Linked DNA regions of Homo sapiens: region 2 is linked to region 1. Evidence: fine-mapped expression QTL. Tissue or cell type: spinal cord. Region 1 holds a variant in brackets; the other region holds the start of a gene. All regions are shown on one strand. Distances are from middle to middle.

What was found. PIP is the estimated chance that this variant, and not a neighbour inherited with it, causes the effect.
Region 2: it holds the start of GNA14, and the variant in region 1 is fine-mapped to the expression of GNA14 in spinal cord (GTEx, PIP above 0.99). The same link has a PIP of 0.9 or more in substantia nigra.

What each region holds. Positions count from the first base shown.
Region 1 is chr9:77,529,638-77,537,838 of GRCh38, reverse strand. All of the region lies in intron 1 of GNA14 (G protein subunit alpha 14), which reads left to right. Among named protein-coding and RNA genes, the nearest start is that of GNA14-AS1, 86 kb to the right of the region's middle. RefSeq lists an enhancer at 3,073-3,585. The variant G/C (reference allele first, on the strand shown) is at 3,248.
Region 2 is chr9:77,645,159-77,653,308 of GRCh38, reverse strand. GNA14 (G protein subunit alpha 14) reads left to right here and starts at 4,987. Exons shown (of 7, transcript NM_004297.4): 1 at 4,987-5,639. The coding sequence starts at 5,516.

The sequences.
Region 1 (8,201 bases):
TGTTCAACATCACTGATTGTCAGGAAATGCAAATCAAAACCATAGTGAGATACTACCATTCCCTAGTTAGAATAGCTACTACTAAAAGACAAAAAATGACATGCTGGCAAGGATGCAGAGAAAAGGGAACTCATACACTGTTGGTGGGAATGTAAACTAATATAACCACTATGGAAAACAGTATGGAGAATTCTCCAACAACTCAAAATAGATTACCATACAATCCAGCAATCTACTACTAGGTATTAATCCAAAGAAAAAAGAAATCTGTATATCACAGGAATACCTGCGCTTGCATGTTTATCACAGCCCTATTCACAATAGCAAAGATAAGGAATCAACCTAAGTGTCCATTGATGGACAGATGGATAAAGAAAGTGTGGTATATATACATAGTGGGATACTATTCAGCCATAGAAAAAGAACGAAATCATGTCATTTGCAGCAACATGGATGTAAATGGAGGTCATTATGTTAAGTGGGATAAGCCAGGCAAAACAAGGCAGGTACTGCATGTTCTCACTCATAGGTGGGAGATAAAACACTTGGTCTTGTGGAGCCGAGAATAGAATAATAAATACCAAAGGCCAGGAAGGGGGTGTGGTTGGGAGGGGAGGATGAAGGGAGGTTGATTAGTGGGTACAAGCATACAGTTAGATAGAAGAAATAAGCTCAATATTTGATAGCAAAGTAGAGTGACCATAATTAGCAACAGTGTATTGTATACTCAAAGTAGCTAGAAGAGAGGACTTGAAATGTTACTGACACAGAGACATGATAAATACTCAAGGTGATGGATACCCCAAATACCCTGGCTTGATTTTATGCATGTAACAGATATTCATAGGTACCCCATAAATATGTAAAATACTTTGTATCCATAAAAAAGATGCATGCAGATGTAAAAAAAAATGCACATATGGCAAATAGGAGAAATATATTATTTTTGATATCTCAAATTAGAAAAATAATTATTCAAAAATTCTCTGTGATTAAAACTTGTTAGCATGACCCATTGACTTTGTCTGATATAAGAGGTACTCTCACAAATCAAGTTAGGACTTGAAAATTCTTTATCAAAATGAGACCCAAAGATGATAGAAAGTAGCAGGAAATATTTGGAATTGCTGCTCTTCTTGGTTAGGCAATAAAGATGGTTTTGCAGATTAACGAATCAAGAGACTAATAAGGCAGGGCACGGTGTCTTACACCTGTAATCCAGCACTTTGGGAGGTCAAGGTGGGCAGATAGCTTGAGACCAGAAGTTCGAGACCAGCCTGGCCAACGTGGTGAAACCCCGTCTCTACTAAAAATACAAAAATTAGCCAGGTGTGGTGGCGCATGCTTGTAATCCCAGCTGCTTGGGAGGCTGAGGCAGAAGAATTGCTTGAACCTGGGAAGCGGAGGTTGCAGTAAACCAAGATCGTGTGACTGCACTCCAGCCTGCGCGACAGAGCGAGACTCTTGTCTCTCTCACACACACACAAAAAAAACCTAACAAAAATAATACAACATATTTTGAATTCTGCTCCGTTGTTCTGCTGTTGTTTTTTAATCTTAAACTGTGTATTGAGCCTCGTCACTTAGTTTCTTTCAACTCTCCTTTTTTATTTTGAAAGCCTTGTATTAATCTCTTTTGTTGAGACAGCAGCCATGAACCCTGTCTCCAATTGTTTCCAGTTCTCTGTTGCCTAGAATTATTGCTACTTCTCCTTTTATGGTGAAAAATAGCACCTCCTCTATTTGCGAGAACAGAAGCTGGGAGAGTGACCTGGCTGTGATGGTGATGTAGGGGCTGGACAGAAACTAGCAGGAGTAACTTGAAGAAGTGAATCTTATCGGCACTTTAAAAATGTTTTCCCCCGGAAATTGAAAAACAGAGCTCCAGAGGGGTATTTTATTCATGCAGAAATAAAATTGGAACTTGCTTGGAAAAAAAAAAAAAACAAAACAACTAAACTGAATGTAATGCAATAGCTTGAGCATTCCAGTCCCAGGCATATTCTATTAGCACAGGTTCCCCTTTGAAGGGCCCCAGAGAAGTGTTTCCCAACCAGCCTGTGGACCGGGTGCATCCAAACCCCTGGAATACTGGTGAAAAATGTATATTTTCAAATCTGTCAAAATTATTAGACCTGACAAGGGGCCCAAGAATCTGCATTTTTAATGAGCATCGTCTCCCTCATTGGATGCTGTCCTGCACTTAGGTAGGGAGTCATTTGGAATTTCTCTCAGCATTAGCTGATTCTCTCATAAATCAGTATCTTTTTTGTTTTTTGTTTTTGTTTTCCTAGACAGAGTCTCGCATGTCGCCCAGGCTGGAGTGCAATGGCGCGATCTCGGCTCAGCTCAGTGCAACCTCTGCCTCCCGGGTTCATGCCATTCTCCTGCCTCAGCCTCACGAGTAGCTGGGACTACAGGCGCCCGCCACCACACCCGGCTAATTTTTTGTATTTTTAGTAGAGACGGGGTTTCACCGTGTTAGCCAGGATGGTCTTGATCTCCTGACTTCGTGATCCTCCCGCCTCCGCCTCCGCCTCCCAAAGTGCTGGGATTACAGGCGTGAGCCACCGCACCCAGCCCATAAATCAGTATTTTAAACAAGCCCCAGGGTTGCAGTACACACAGGTGCAGAAACTCCTGCTGCATGGGTAGCTACTGCCCAAGGTCAGCCATGAGTTCTCTGGGGCCAAGCAGAGTGCCCCCAAGGGCCTGGCACCGTCCTCTGGGCAGGCCTCTTTGCTGCTGAGAAACGCTCCTTCCTAAAGATTACAAAAGGAATTTTCTTAAGTCCTTTATCCCCCCATTAAAAAGCCCTGAAATGGAACCTGAGCCTCCCAGTGTGCTGGCACCTGGCCTCAAGTGTCTTCATCAGAGCGCCTGCTCACTGGTGAGGTTGCTTTGCATACACAACAGACTCATCCACTCTGAGCGGGAAATCCACCTCCTTGTTGCTTTTCAAAACAGAAGCCATCCTGACTGTCTACAGCCAATAAACACCCATTCATGAATATTTTATTAGGCTCTTACTCTGCTCTTTTAGGCTCCAAAGATATCAGGAAACGAGAAAAAAAAAGATCCCTGTCCTTAGAGAGCCAACCTGCTGGTCACATCCGTTATGCGCATGTCTGTCTTCCGCCTGTTGGGCACATAGATGATTTAGACAGCATGAGCAACATCCAGAACTGTGTGCTCATTCTTGTTCTGACTTCTTTTGTTCTATTTACATTGTCTCATGCAAAACTGA[G/C]CTACAAACAGTGGCTTCTCACGATGGTTTCAGAACACATCACAATTGGGAGATGGTGCTTCCTATCTGGGAAGCTTTATCAGCCTGCTTTGGCTCTCTGGGAGGCAGTCTTTCTGAATTTTATGTAAACATTAGAACAATTGGCTTTCTGTTTTGATGTCCTTGGACTATCACTTGGGAAAGATTTATGTTGCTTTGGCCTCTGTTTCCTCCTGGCTCCTAAAGGCCTTTTGTACTTATATGAGTTTCAATCCTTGGTTATTTTGTATTGGGATGAGGTTCATGGGTAGAATTTCGGAAGACTCGAGAGAGAAGAGTGGAGGAATCTCCTTTAAAGATGAAAAGTAAACGGGTAAATTTCACATAAGAAATGATAATTCATGTGTATTATTTTCCAAAATGTGGTTCCCAGATCACTGGTGATAGACAGGATGTTTTTATTTGAAATATTGCTGAAGTCATTTGTTATATTTAGTTTGATCGTGGCAAATAATACTGGTCTTTCACTTGTGACAGGTTTTTTCATTACAAGTTTATTGAAATAATAAAGCTAAATATTAAATAATCACACAGGTGACATATGCGTATGAGAAAAATCACAAGGTTGGTACACAGATAATTGAGGTTTGGGAAATGCTAGTTGAGTGGAAGGCCAGGAGCAAGCGTCTTGTAGGAAAACTCCCAACCTGCAAGGTCAAAGGCTCACAGCTGTCACTCACAGTAAACAGGAAGCTTGTGGAGGTGAGCTTTATAGAAAAGAAATTATCTGTATGTGCCAACTAGCAAGGTCTCTATGTTCAAGTTAACCAGTAATTGAGTGTCCGCCCTGGAAAAGGAAATATCTCAAGTTTAGGGGGAGAGGGGAGGCAGAGGATCCAAGGCAAAGCTGTATAGCAGGAGATTTGGGAGATTATGGGAGTCTTAGACCAGGAGCAGTTTTATCCCCTGCTGAGAGGTCAGAGAGGATCCACGCAGAGAAAGGGACGTTAAGTCTTCTAGTGAATGTATTACTGGCCAGGGTGCCTTCCCCAGAAGCTTGCCGCTGATTTTATGACAAAGGACAGTTGCAGTTGGATGATGGTGAGCAACTATCTCAAATATATCAGGCGCCAGGCCAGCCATGGTGGCTCACGCCTGTAATCCTTGCATTTTGAGAGGCTGAGGCAGGAGGATGGCCTGAGCTCAGAAGTTTGAGACCAGCCTGGGCAACATGGCGAAACCCTGTCTCTACTAAAAATACAAAAATTAGCCAGGTGTGGTGGCACACGCCTCTAATCCCAGCTACTGGGGAGGCTGAGGCACGAGAATTGCTTGAACCCAGAGGCGGAGGTTACATGCAGTGAGCTGAGATCATGTCACTGCACTCCAGTCTGAGCAACAGAGCAAGACTCTGTCTCCAAAATATATATATATGGTGCTGAAAGTTTAAAAGTACTTATTACCATTGTTGGATTTTATTTTCAAATATGAAAACAGAAAAACTAAATGGAGAAGAGCCGTTTCCCCTAATTATATTTGAAACAGAGTCTAGAGACGGAATTGTAATTTTATTCTCTCTTTTACTCTGTGACTTTTTGGATTGGGTCCAGGATTGCAAGCCCTCTGGACTGTGACCCCTCCACCCCTAGCCTCATTACATCTAAGTGAATCCCTTTGGAACCAGACACCAAAATTCACCTTTCAGTTAAAAGACCTCCCACTCCTTGTAAACCAAAAAGCTGCTGCCAGGGTGAGGGTTCCTGTTGTCTTCACTGTGTGTAGCCGTTCAGGCTGCAGAGGACCCTCCACCAGCACATGCATTTTGTGGGGGTGCGGGTGAGAAATTCCTCACAAAGAGATAAAAAAACAAGGCAGAGCGGACGCATGCTACTGAAACAAACCACATATTCTAATAGGTAGTTAGGTAGGATGTAGGATCTAAGTCACCGAGTCCTCCAGTCACCAATAATTTTCACTCTAAAAATCATACCCTTTGGATTTTTCTTTTGCTTTTTGTGAATAAATGAACAGTCATATACTTGATGTCTGAGTGTTGAGTTTCTGTTTAGAACAAGTGAGGAAACTCAACTGAGATCCTTAGCTTGAGTTAAACTGGTCCCTGTGGTCCTGGTCACTGCTGTCATTATAAGACAGATTGATGCCATCATCTACCTTCCCCTGCATTCACCTGCTGCTGGGACCATCTTATTTATAGCAGATCTCTGCAGGCTGAAAGCTAAAGTTCCAGGGATTGAAATCTCTGTACCAGGTGAAGACTGCACGTAAGCTGATGGGAGCGATGGATGAGACCATGTACTTGGGGGAAATAAGCAGTGTAAAAACCAGCTCATAACTAGGGGTGCTATCCTGGGACGTGCATACACCAACATAAACCTGCATTTGGACCCAGGCCACGACACTTCCAAACTGAGTGACCTTGGACAACCAATTTAATCTTTCTGATTTTCCATTTCCCTTCTGGAAAAAAAAAATACACTAGCTGGGTGATGCTGAGGCTTAAATGAGAGTGGAGGATCTCCGCAAGGTGAGTCTCTTTGCTCTCTCAGCCCTCGGTGCTGTGTGTCTTTCAGTCTCTCTTCTTTGCCTTTACTCTGCCCTCTTTTGCTCCGCATTTGGTTTTTTAATTCTTTGAACAACCACAATTTAAAACTAAAGAATATTTTAAAATATGGGTATTTATTGAATACATCTATATCTTCTCTTGTATGAACCCTTAAAATCACTTCTAACGTTTTCTTTTTGAAATACTCCATGTCTGAAATAAAAAATGGGTGGCTTTTAAAAAATGTTTGTGTGTTTGGGGCTGGTGGTGGGGTTAGCTTTAACTATTAATAACATTGTAAGTGAATGGCTCTTATTAGCAAAAAGATTCTCTTAGTGTAGATTTTTGGGTGTGTCTTGAGTGATTTTTCTGGCTTCAGGACCAAAACCACAGCCTGTCTTGAGGTGATTACATAATCTCTGCATTCACATCAGCTTCACAATGTGTAAATGTAGCCATATTAATGTTCGCTTGGGGTAATCTAGCACTGGATTGTAGCTCAACTCTGCCGGGTGGAATAAGAGACCGACGTGGCAGTATCATAGTCACATGCAGGGACTCCAAGATGCTGCAGGAGTAGAGAGCTAATCTGACTTGGGACTTTGAATCAAGCTTGGACAGTATAAGGTCTTTCTACAGGTCCTCACTTCTCATATAGGGTTTGTGCAGCCAAGAGTCATTATGAAATGGTGGCTCCCAGGGGCACGTGGTCTCATCACAGTTTATCCTTGTTCAATTCATGTCTCGTTTTTCTGAGGTTGTCCATGATATAAGACCTATGGGGGAAAGCTGCTGACTTCTCATGTTTGTTCCATTCAATCCTTCATTGACCATTTCTTTGGGTGCTTTCTATAAAGCAGGCACATTGTTCGTGGTGCCCAAATGTGTGAATCTCGGGCCCTGCCTTTACTGGATGAAAGGTATGGTGAGAGATATATTTGCAAGCAAGCATTTAGGCGATGTGCTGCTTCTGGGTATCCAAGGCACTTTGAGGGCCTAAAGCAGGCAGGGCTAACTGTTGGTGGCATGCAGGGGAAGGAAATCCTTTCTAGGATATGTGATGTCTGTGGTGAACATTGAAGGCCAAGGCATTGACACCTGACTTCCAGCCCCAATTCTGCATCTGCACCCAACCTTGGCTTGTCCCCTGACTAATTACCAGTTTTCTGGTCTCTGAGATGGGAGGACAGTGTCTACCTATCCTGTCTCTGGAGGCTGAAACAAGGCCAGTGAGACTGTGTGTGAGGACACTCCCCCATCTGGGGGTTCTCCCATGTGCCCCAGCAGCCTGAGCCTGCAAGACAGTGGGTTGGCTGAGGTTTGAGGTTCAGTGTGTGACTGTGAACTTTGTGTTTGTCCCCTTTAGATCAGACCAAGACATTTTTCTCTAATAATTGAGTTGGTCATTGTAGTTCAATTCTGAGTAAATCCCAGTTCTTTCTCTTGCCGACTGGGAGCTTGCAGAGATTATTTAACCAATTAGAATCTTAGGTTTCTTATCTGTAAAATGAAGATGATAATTGTATTCGTCTGTTTTCACATTGCTATGAAGAAATCCCTGAGACTGGGTAATTTATAAAGAAAAGAGGTTGAATTGGCTCACGTTTCCACAAGCTGTACAGGAAGCATGATGCTGACATCTGCTCGGCTTCTGGGGAGGCCTCAGGAAACTTACAATCATGGTGGAAGGTAAAGGGGGAGCAGGAACTTCATGTGGCCAGAGCAGGAGCAAGAGAGAGTGAGGAGGGAGGGGTGCCATACACTTTTAAACAACCAGATCTTGCAAGAACTCTCATGAGAACAGCACCAAGGTGAGGGTGCTAAACCATTCATGAGAAACCACCCCCATGATCGAGTCATCTCCCACCAGGCCCCACCTCCAACACTGGGGATTACAATTCAATGTGAGATTTGGGTAGGGACACAGGTCTGACCTGTATCAGCAATAGCATATATTTCATCAAGTGTGTGTGGTTGTGAGGAGCCATGAATAGGACACATCATGTTCCAAACATGGTAAAGGGGTGCCATATGATAAATTATCTTTATCAAAGAAAATATTAGCAAATATTTTAATTGTTGTCTAAATTGCTATCACTTATACTGCAACTTTTACTACCTTTTCAAATAAACTCTCAATCTAATATGAATGTAGAGTTTTGATGTCATTTTTCACATATGTTGTATCTGGACCTCTAATGCACATTTAAGAACAATAGGGATGGCTTCATACTGTAACACGTTCCTTGGCCGCCATGTGCAAGTGTTGTGAGTTTTGAGGACCTCCTGAACTGCGTGTTGAGACATGAAAAGAAGCAAGCACATAGACATTTGGCACCTCTGGGAAATGGTGCTTTCTTGTGCAGGGATGAAGAATATTTGTGTATCTGAAAGGAAGGAGTTGACTGATTC
Region 2 (8,150 bases), 120 kb before region 1:
TGAAAAGTCACATTCAAAAACAAACAATATCAATTCCTGCCTACTCACAGTCATGTGTGTTTGAAGGCAGACTTCATTGTCTATCATCCCAGCGTTTTCGGTAACAGTTATATAATAAACAATTTCTGGTCTTCAGACAGAGAATATTGTAGAGCAACATGTTGACATGTTGATTGCCTTAAAAAAAATAGATGTTGAGTGCAAGCAACCACTAGCATCAGTATTACACATCCATCTAAATATCCATCAGTTGGGAACAATAGATACTGGGGACTCCAATAGTGGGGAGTGGGGGCAGGGGAAAGGGGTGAAAAACTACCTATTAGTTACTGTGTTCACTAATGGGGTGACAGGTTCAATTAAAGGCCAAACCTCAGCATCACAAAATATACCCATGTAACTAACGTGCACATGTACCCACTGAATCTAAAATTTTTTTAAAAACAATCAATCAATCAATCATTATCCATCATTGCTCCATCAACTCTCACCTACCAAACTAGAGCCAATGGGTGGGATGGGGAGTAGAAGTGACGGGGAAGAAGGATTGAAAACATTTTAGAGAACACATTGAACTCAAACTGAAAAAAAAAGAACATATTGGATTCAGAAAAATGAATTAGAAAATTTGGAATCATTTACACTAACACATTCAGGAGATGGACAAGCAGACTCCCACTGATGACTGAGCTGCTTAAGAGTTGATACACGTACAATTAAAACTAAAGTTTTTCTCACTGAACTCTGGGTATTTGGCTTAAAAATAAAATAAAACTAAAGATGTGGTGGCTTATGCCTGTAATCCCAGTACTTCAGGAGGCTGAGGCAGGGGGACTCTATGAGGCCAGGAGTTCAAGACCAGCCCGGGTAATATAGTGAGACCCTGCGTTTACAAAATATAAGAATAAAAAAATAGCTGGACATGGTGGCATGGGCTTGTAGTCCTAGCTATTTGGGAGGCTGAGGTGGGAGAACTGCTTGAGCCTAGGAGTTCAAGGCTGCAGTGAGCCATAATCACGCCATTGCACTCCAGCTTGAGTGACAGACACTCTGGCTCTTAAAAAAAAAAAAGTTAAAAAACATTTTATTAAATAATAATACATACAGCAACCTTGATATTGGCTCTTTATATTTTATTCTTAAGAAAAAATATTGGCCACACCCTAGGAATGTGTCACAACTGCAGTTTGAAAAATGCTGACATAGAGCAGCAAAGGTACATTAGTATTAGTGCTTTGTGAACTTCCTCAAGGTCCTATTTTTACTCTATGTTACTTGTTAAGTTCAGAGACAATACACTTGTGAAAGTGAACTGCATCTTTCCAGCCCTCTATTTGCACATTTCCTTGGCATTCTGAATTAGAAACAGGGCAGTCATTCTCTCTAAGGGGGCCAGTGGCAGGTGAGGGCAGCTCATATATACAAGTTCTTCCTAAGTTATACATTCATTTGTTTTGTACTTGCTTATTGGTTTTCACTGTCTTCCACCACAAGAACCTTCTTTTCTTGCATCTCAGACTAATTCTTCTTGGTTTCAGTATTTAAGGTTAGTCAACTGAAACTTGCTAATTTAGGAATACCAGGATAAGTAAGAAAAACTCTTTACCTGTGAGTAACTCATAGATTAGAAGAAACAGACGGGTGTAATAGAGTGAGATGTTGACAGTGTTCCAGCAGTAGGGAAAGATGGATGTAACTGACAAGGGCTGGAGTTGCTTCCTCAGAAGAGATGTAATTGAAAAAGAAATTACCTAATTTTGCCTAGGGTAAGAGATGGTATTCCTGGAAGATGGAACAGCATGCACCGAGGCATGGAGGCAGGAGGTAGGGAGAACAGAAAATTCCATTTGTCTAGAGTTCCAGGAGAGTGATGGAAGATGAGGCTGCTGTGCATATCTGTAGGCCTGGGGAGCGCCCTCAGGTGACTCTGTGCTCTCACTGTTCTCTGGAAGGAAGCAGGAAGGGGTAGGTTCAGATTTCAGGGTCTCAGTTTTACTTCTTTCTACTAGACTATAGCTCTACCGAAAGTCTGGAATTGTCTTATTACCTGAATCCTCACTGCCTGGTACAGGGGCTGGTATGGACCTAGTGGACATTCAGAGGGATATCAGACAATTAGCTCACCCCTGTAGCCCCACACTTGGTGGATATCTGAAACTCAGGTCCAGTCTGCGCTCTCGTCTTCAAGATGAATAAAATAAAATTGCAGCTTTTTTGAAATAACTTAGGAAAATAAATATTCTCTTTTATTGAGAACTCTTCTCAAAACTACCCCTTCCTGGAAAGATGTTTCCAATGAATTAATATCTTAAAATTATTATCATTTTACCTTCCAGATTCTACAGATAAGGAAAACAGAGATGAATAAAACATAGAAGTATAAAAATGATTGACTTGTGATATCCCAGTTTTCTGTTTCTTACCAGTGGCTGATGCTCAATAACAACTTTAGGTTTTTGATTATTTTTAAATAAATTTATTTTGGATAAGTGTGAATGTCATCAAAGAAATAATGCATGTTAGAGTTGGGTGATCCTTTTGAGCTTATTCTGGCTTATCCCTCTCATCTTATAGTTAAGGAAAGTGGAGCCTAAATAATTTTATGCAAGCTGCCCCAAATTTTTTCTTTCTTTTTTTTTTTTTTTGAGACGGAGTTTGGCTCTTGTTGCCCAGGCTGGAGTGCAATGGTGTGATCTTGGCTCACCACAACCTCTGCCTTCCGGATTCAAGCAATTCTCCTGCCTCAGCCTCCCGAGTAGCTGGGATTACAGGCATGTGCCACCACACCCAACTAATTTTGTATTTTTAGTAGAGATGGGGTTTCTCCATGTTGGTCAGGCTGGCTGGTCTCGAACTCCCAACCTCAGGTGATCTGCCCGCCTCGGCCTCCCAAAGTGCTGGGATTACAGACGTGAGCCACTGCACCCAGCCCAAATTTTCTAATGAACAATGAAAATCAACCAAACAGCCATGACTCACAGCAAGCTACCTTTTTGATGTGTGTCCCTTCAGTCTCTTAAAAATGTGTATGCGTATTCTTATACTAAAATCTTATCATACTCTTTATATTTTTGGATCTTGCCTTTTTCATTCAATATATTTTGAGGATTTTCTCCAAATTTATTCACATGTTTACTACTCGCATATCCACATATTTAATGGCTCCAAAACATCTCATTGTATGGATAAACCATGATTTAAGTGATCTCTTCCCTGTTGTTAGGTATTTAGGTTGTGAGTTTTTGTTGTTGTATTGGCAATAAAACCTTTGCATCAGTCATGAGGCTTCTTTCTAGTTATTTCTTAAGGGAGAAATTACTGGTTTGGCCGAAGGGGACGGACATGTTTAAGGCTTCAGATATATACTGCCAAGCTGACTAGCCCAGGAAAGTTGTACAGATTTGCCCTAATCAATATGTTTCATAACTGTTTTTGAAATCTTGCCAACTTTAAACCTAATAGGTCAGTATCAGTAATTCCCGTTAACGTAAGAGTTCAAATTTGCCCTAGTTTTAATCATTTAAAAATTTTTTATAATTTTTAAATGATAACAATTATGATGCAACCATGACTTTGAGAAGCCAAGAGATCTTATTCTCAAATTGTAAATGAATCCGTAAGAGCTAAGAGAGAAGAAACAGGCTATTAAATGGCCAAAGATCAAATCTGAAATGTCCAGGAGTTTTCCTGTAGGGGTCACTGTTACTGTCAATTTATGCCTGCAAGAAAACTAAAATAGTCACACATTAAAGCATGTATGCACATTTTTAATGTCTGATTCCTCTACATTTCTTAAACTGTAAAATAATAAGAACATGCAGCCAGATAGCATCGCGATACCAACTTCTTTATATAATGACACGTACCATTCCACTCAATGTGCTCCTCAGTTTGAATTTATAAAATATATGCTACTCAAATGAAAGGCACTTATGCCTGCTCTTAGTAGAGGAAGCGCTAGCTAATTGCCTAACGCCCCATTAGCATATGGCCTATACTGACTTGAGAAGGAAAGAACGTTCATTGCTGTGGCCAATAGGATCCCCTCTCCCCACCTTCCCTTTTCTGCATCAAAATCTACACAGACAAAAGTCAGATGTTGTAATATGCATTTTATCGTGTCACTTAAGTACTAAGAGGTGCTTTTAAAGTTTTTATTAATGCTGCTCAAACTTGACCCCGACGGTCCAGGATACAGGCCAAGGTGTCAGTGCGGACACAATCGCAAGGCGGCTGTTAGGCTTCAGGGCTGGGCAGGAAACTTGCCAGGTGCTACTAGGAACGTATCAGCCCTTTCTACAAAGCAGGTGTCTTTCCCATCATAAAATGCAAAGCAATCAGCCGTTCCCTTTCTCCCCAGCCCCCTCGTCCGGAGACCGAGAGGATATTTACCCTGGGCTCTTGCAGTTCTCTTATAACTGAACCCAGCGGCGGCTCCTTCTCCGAGCTCAGAGCCAGCAGGCTCAGGCCCAGCCACACTTTACAGGCAAATTGCCGAGCTGACCAAGGGCTTTGGCCAAGCCCGAGCTGGGCCGGGGCGTCCGGGAAGCGGAAGGAGCCAGTCTAGGAAATCCGGGTGTGCGTGGTGGTGAAGCTGGTGGGCAAGCTTCCACTTCAGGTCCGGGGCTTTGTGTCCCGCAACAGACGCTTGGCGCCGCTCCTCTTCCAGCCTGCTGCCGCCTTCTCCGAGCGAGTGAGTTGGCGAAACTCACTCACCTGTCGGAACCCGGTGCCTGGCGGCCAGACGCGCAGATTACAGCAAACCTTGGCCGGGACGCCCCAGCCAGGGAGGCAAGTGTGGGAGCTGCTCCTAGAGGTGCCAGCTCCCACCCCCAGCTCCGCGCCCCCTGCTCGTCCCCTTTCACTTCCAGGCGCCTTCGGCTTGGGGTGCCCAGAAGGGCAAGTCCAGCAGACGCCAGGGCTGCAGGTTCAAGATGCTCCGCCTCCTCCTGCCACTTAGAGCCACAAACGCTAGCGGGAACCTTTCCACTCAGTCTTAGTCTGCGGTCACTGCTGAGGTTTTCAGAACTTTCCAGGCAAAGGCCAGCCAGGTCCTTTGCCTCCAACCCACTCCGCGCCTACCTCCCGCCTGGGGACACCCCTAGGCCCAGGAGATCCTACTCTCCCCCGAGCACCGACGTTCCAACTCGTCTGCGCCCCCGACTGCTGTCCGGCTCCTGTGCCAAGGGGCGCGCGCATCTTCCCGGGGCCAGCAACGCTCCCAACTTCTCGACTCGCCCTCCTCCTCCCCAGAGCGAGAGTGGGGCGGGCTGAGCCCGGATCCGGGGTGCACTCGAGCGTTCCCAGCGCTCGGCATTCACCCCGCCTCAGAGCCGACTTTCGAAGGGGGATTGAGCCTCGGAGGTCCAGGCGTCTTACTCCAAAGCTCAAGTCGGCCCCCGTCTTTTCTTTCCACACCCCTGTGCCCGTCGCATGCTGGCCGGGTGAGCGGCCGGGCCGAGGATTCGGGTGCCCGGGGCCGCGTCGCCCCGTCGGGTACTGAGCTGAGCGCACCATGGCCGGCTGCTGCTGCCTGTCCGCGGAGGAGAAGGAGTCGCAGCGCATCAGCGCGGAGATCGAGCGACAGCTTCGTCGGGACAAGAAGGACGCGCGCCGTGAGCTTAAGCTGCTGCTGCTGGGTGAGTGGCTGCGTCTCCGACTCCAGTGAGCCGGGCGTTTTTCTTCCGAGCCCTCCCGGCCTCTCCACTGGCACCCGCGCGGCCCTGGAGCCCAGCGGGGTGCAGGGCGGCTTCGTCCTTCTCCCCCTCGGAGCTCACGGATGCCAGCAACTTGGGGCCTTAGGTGCCTGTTCTTTCCATCTCTGGCTGGGCGACTTGCAAAAGCAACACCTTCCCCTGCCCCAAAACAGGATAGGGACCTGTAACACTTAACCTCTTGACCGCTGTACCTTATGTGTTCCGGTGTGCCCCTCTCCTCAAAACCCCGTCCACTCCTCCGCCCGCAGCACACCCAGCTTGGGGTCTGTGGTGACCCACATCTTGGGTTCAGCGCTAGCTCTGACCCGTACGCTTTCAGTTCTAGATGAAGCATCTTGAGAATTTACCATGTGCCAGATCGTGCTAAGTTCTTAAGGGCATCACCACCTGGTGATGCGGGCAGGTGATATCGCTATTCTAGAGAATTAAAACATGGAGGCCTGGAGAACTGACCAACTTGCCCTGATTGAGAAAAGGCAAAGCCGATGCTAGGTCAGCTGTGGGGGTGAAGCCCATGCCGTTGCTGCTCCTCTGACCGTGAGCTCCTATGCCTGCCTCCCATGGGGGTCCCTCAGGCCTTTGTGTTTGCAGCGGACCCAAACCTCCCTTGCCCAGCTTGACTCAGTGTGTCCACGTCCTAGGATTCAGCTTGGCTGCCCTGGTGCCTCTGGCAGGTCTTCATCCAGCTCTTTTGGTGTCTCTGCAAAGGTCTGGGTAGGACATCCACTTTCAAACACAGAAAGAACACAGTTTAAGGTTTGCCCAAGTTATGCCATGAGGCAAGGATCCCATCTCAGACTTTCTAGAACGCTGTCAACACATTTGCTGTTTGAGGAATATTTTACCTTTTCTACCTTTCAGACCATGATATCAGCTGTCAATTTTTTTCTAGATAGCCACAAAGATTTCAACTTTTTTTCTTTCACCCCTTTTGAACAGGAATCTTCTCTTATACCATCTATTTATTCATCTTTATTCCTTGTATAGGAATCACCCTCCCAGAAAGCTTCAAGGAAAGAAAAAGTTGATCTAGTTAGTGTAATATAGAGAAGGCTCTCAGCCAGTATGGCCTTCAGACCTGGGCGGAAGAACCCCCTTATCCTTATCCCCTGGGTTTAAAGGGCCCAGTCTGGCCTTCTGGGGGTTGGGGGGGGGTGTGCCCCTCCCCACAGAGCTGGAAGTCTGTAGGTCCAAAGGGGCTTGCTACCCAGAGACCATGCTGCCCCCTCCCTCCCAAGACCTGGATGGAATGAATACCCAGCCCAAAGGGACCCATACCAGCTTCTAAGGCCTGAGCCCTAGAAAAGAAGGCAGACCTGATCCCTGGAGAGCTCACAAAGGGGCAGCTGTTTGCTGGGGCGTAAAAGTGCTTGGAAATGTGGGCTGGGTAGGAGTGGAGGGAGTCCCCGTGGGTGCCCAAGAGGCCCCCCTAGGAGAGAGGGAGCTTGGGTGGGGAAGGGAAGGGGCTCTGTTCATTGGCCAGGTCTGCTATTTCTGTGTCTGACCCATAACTTTGAAAAGTCTGAAAATTCTAAATTGTCCCTGGCCTTCTAGGCTGTTATAAAGCTACCTTTGTCAAGGGAGGAGGAATACGTGAGAATTTGCTAGCTTGATTAACACTAGAAAATAACTATGGGTGCGGGGCTTTGTACTTTTGCCCTGAACCCCACAAACCAGAGGGGTTTAGTTGCGTATGTAACTTTTTTCTTTATAAGGGCAGGCTGAACCCTATTTCATTTTGCAATGCTTTGATTTGTGTCAATGTATGAAGTACAGTGTCCAGAATATACCAGGAGCTTGACAAATGCTGGCTCTTTGTATGAAAAATTGTGTAGTCAGCTGAGCTGTACTGTATTGGTAATAAGCCTGTTTGATGTAAAATTCTCGCATTTACCCACAAACTAGGGGAGAAATGTTTGTAGGTAAATTGTTTGCTCTGAAAGTCACATTAATCAGGGTGACCCGAGGGTCTTCTTTATCTTCCCAGGCCATTGCTCCAACCCTCCTCCTACCACCTTGAGGCACTGTCTGACCTCTGGAAACTCCCATTTTCATCTTGCGGAGTTGTGACTAGCATATCCCCTTAGTGAAAACTTTCCTGTGAAAAATAGTTTCTAAACCACACAGAGCCGTTCAGAACTCCAAGGATGGACTTCAAAACCTCTGATTTATTTCAATCTGTAAAGTCCTGGGGCATAGCTCCATTTCTTCTCAAGGAAGAGCCAATGACTCAGAAGTGACAGGAATTAGGGGAGGATGTGCACCATTTTGTCTGAAGTCATGCAATTCGAGTGAAAAATTCACCCATCTCTCTAGTGGGTAGATTAGAGCATCCACTGCTCAGGTGCCTCAGTTAAAAACCTCACTTTGCAAATGGGAGTTTGGAATCCTTTTGTGGAGTATGGGATGACCCCCAAAGACACCATCTCTTTC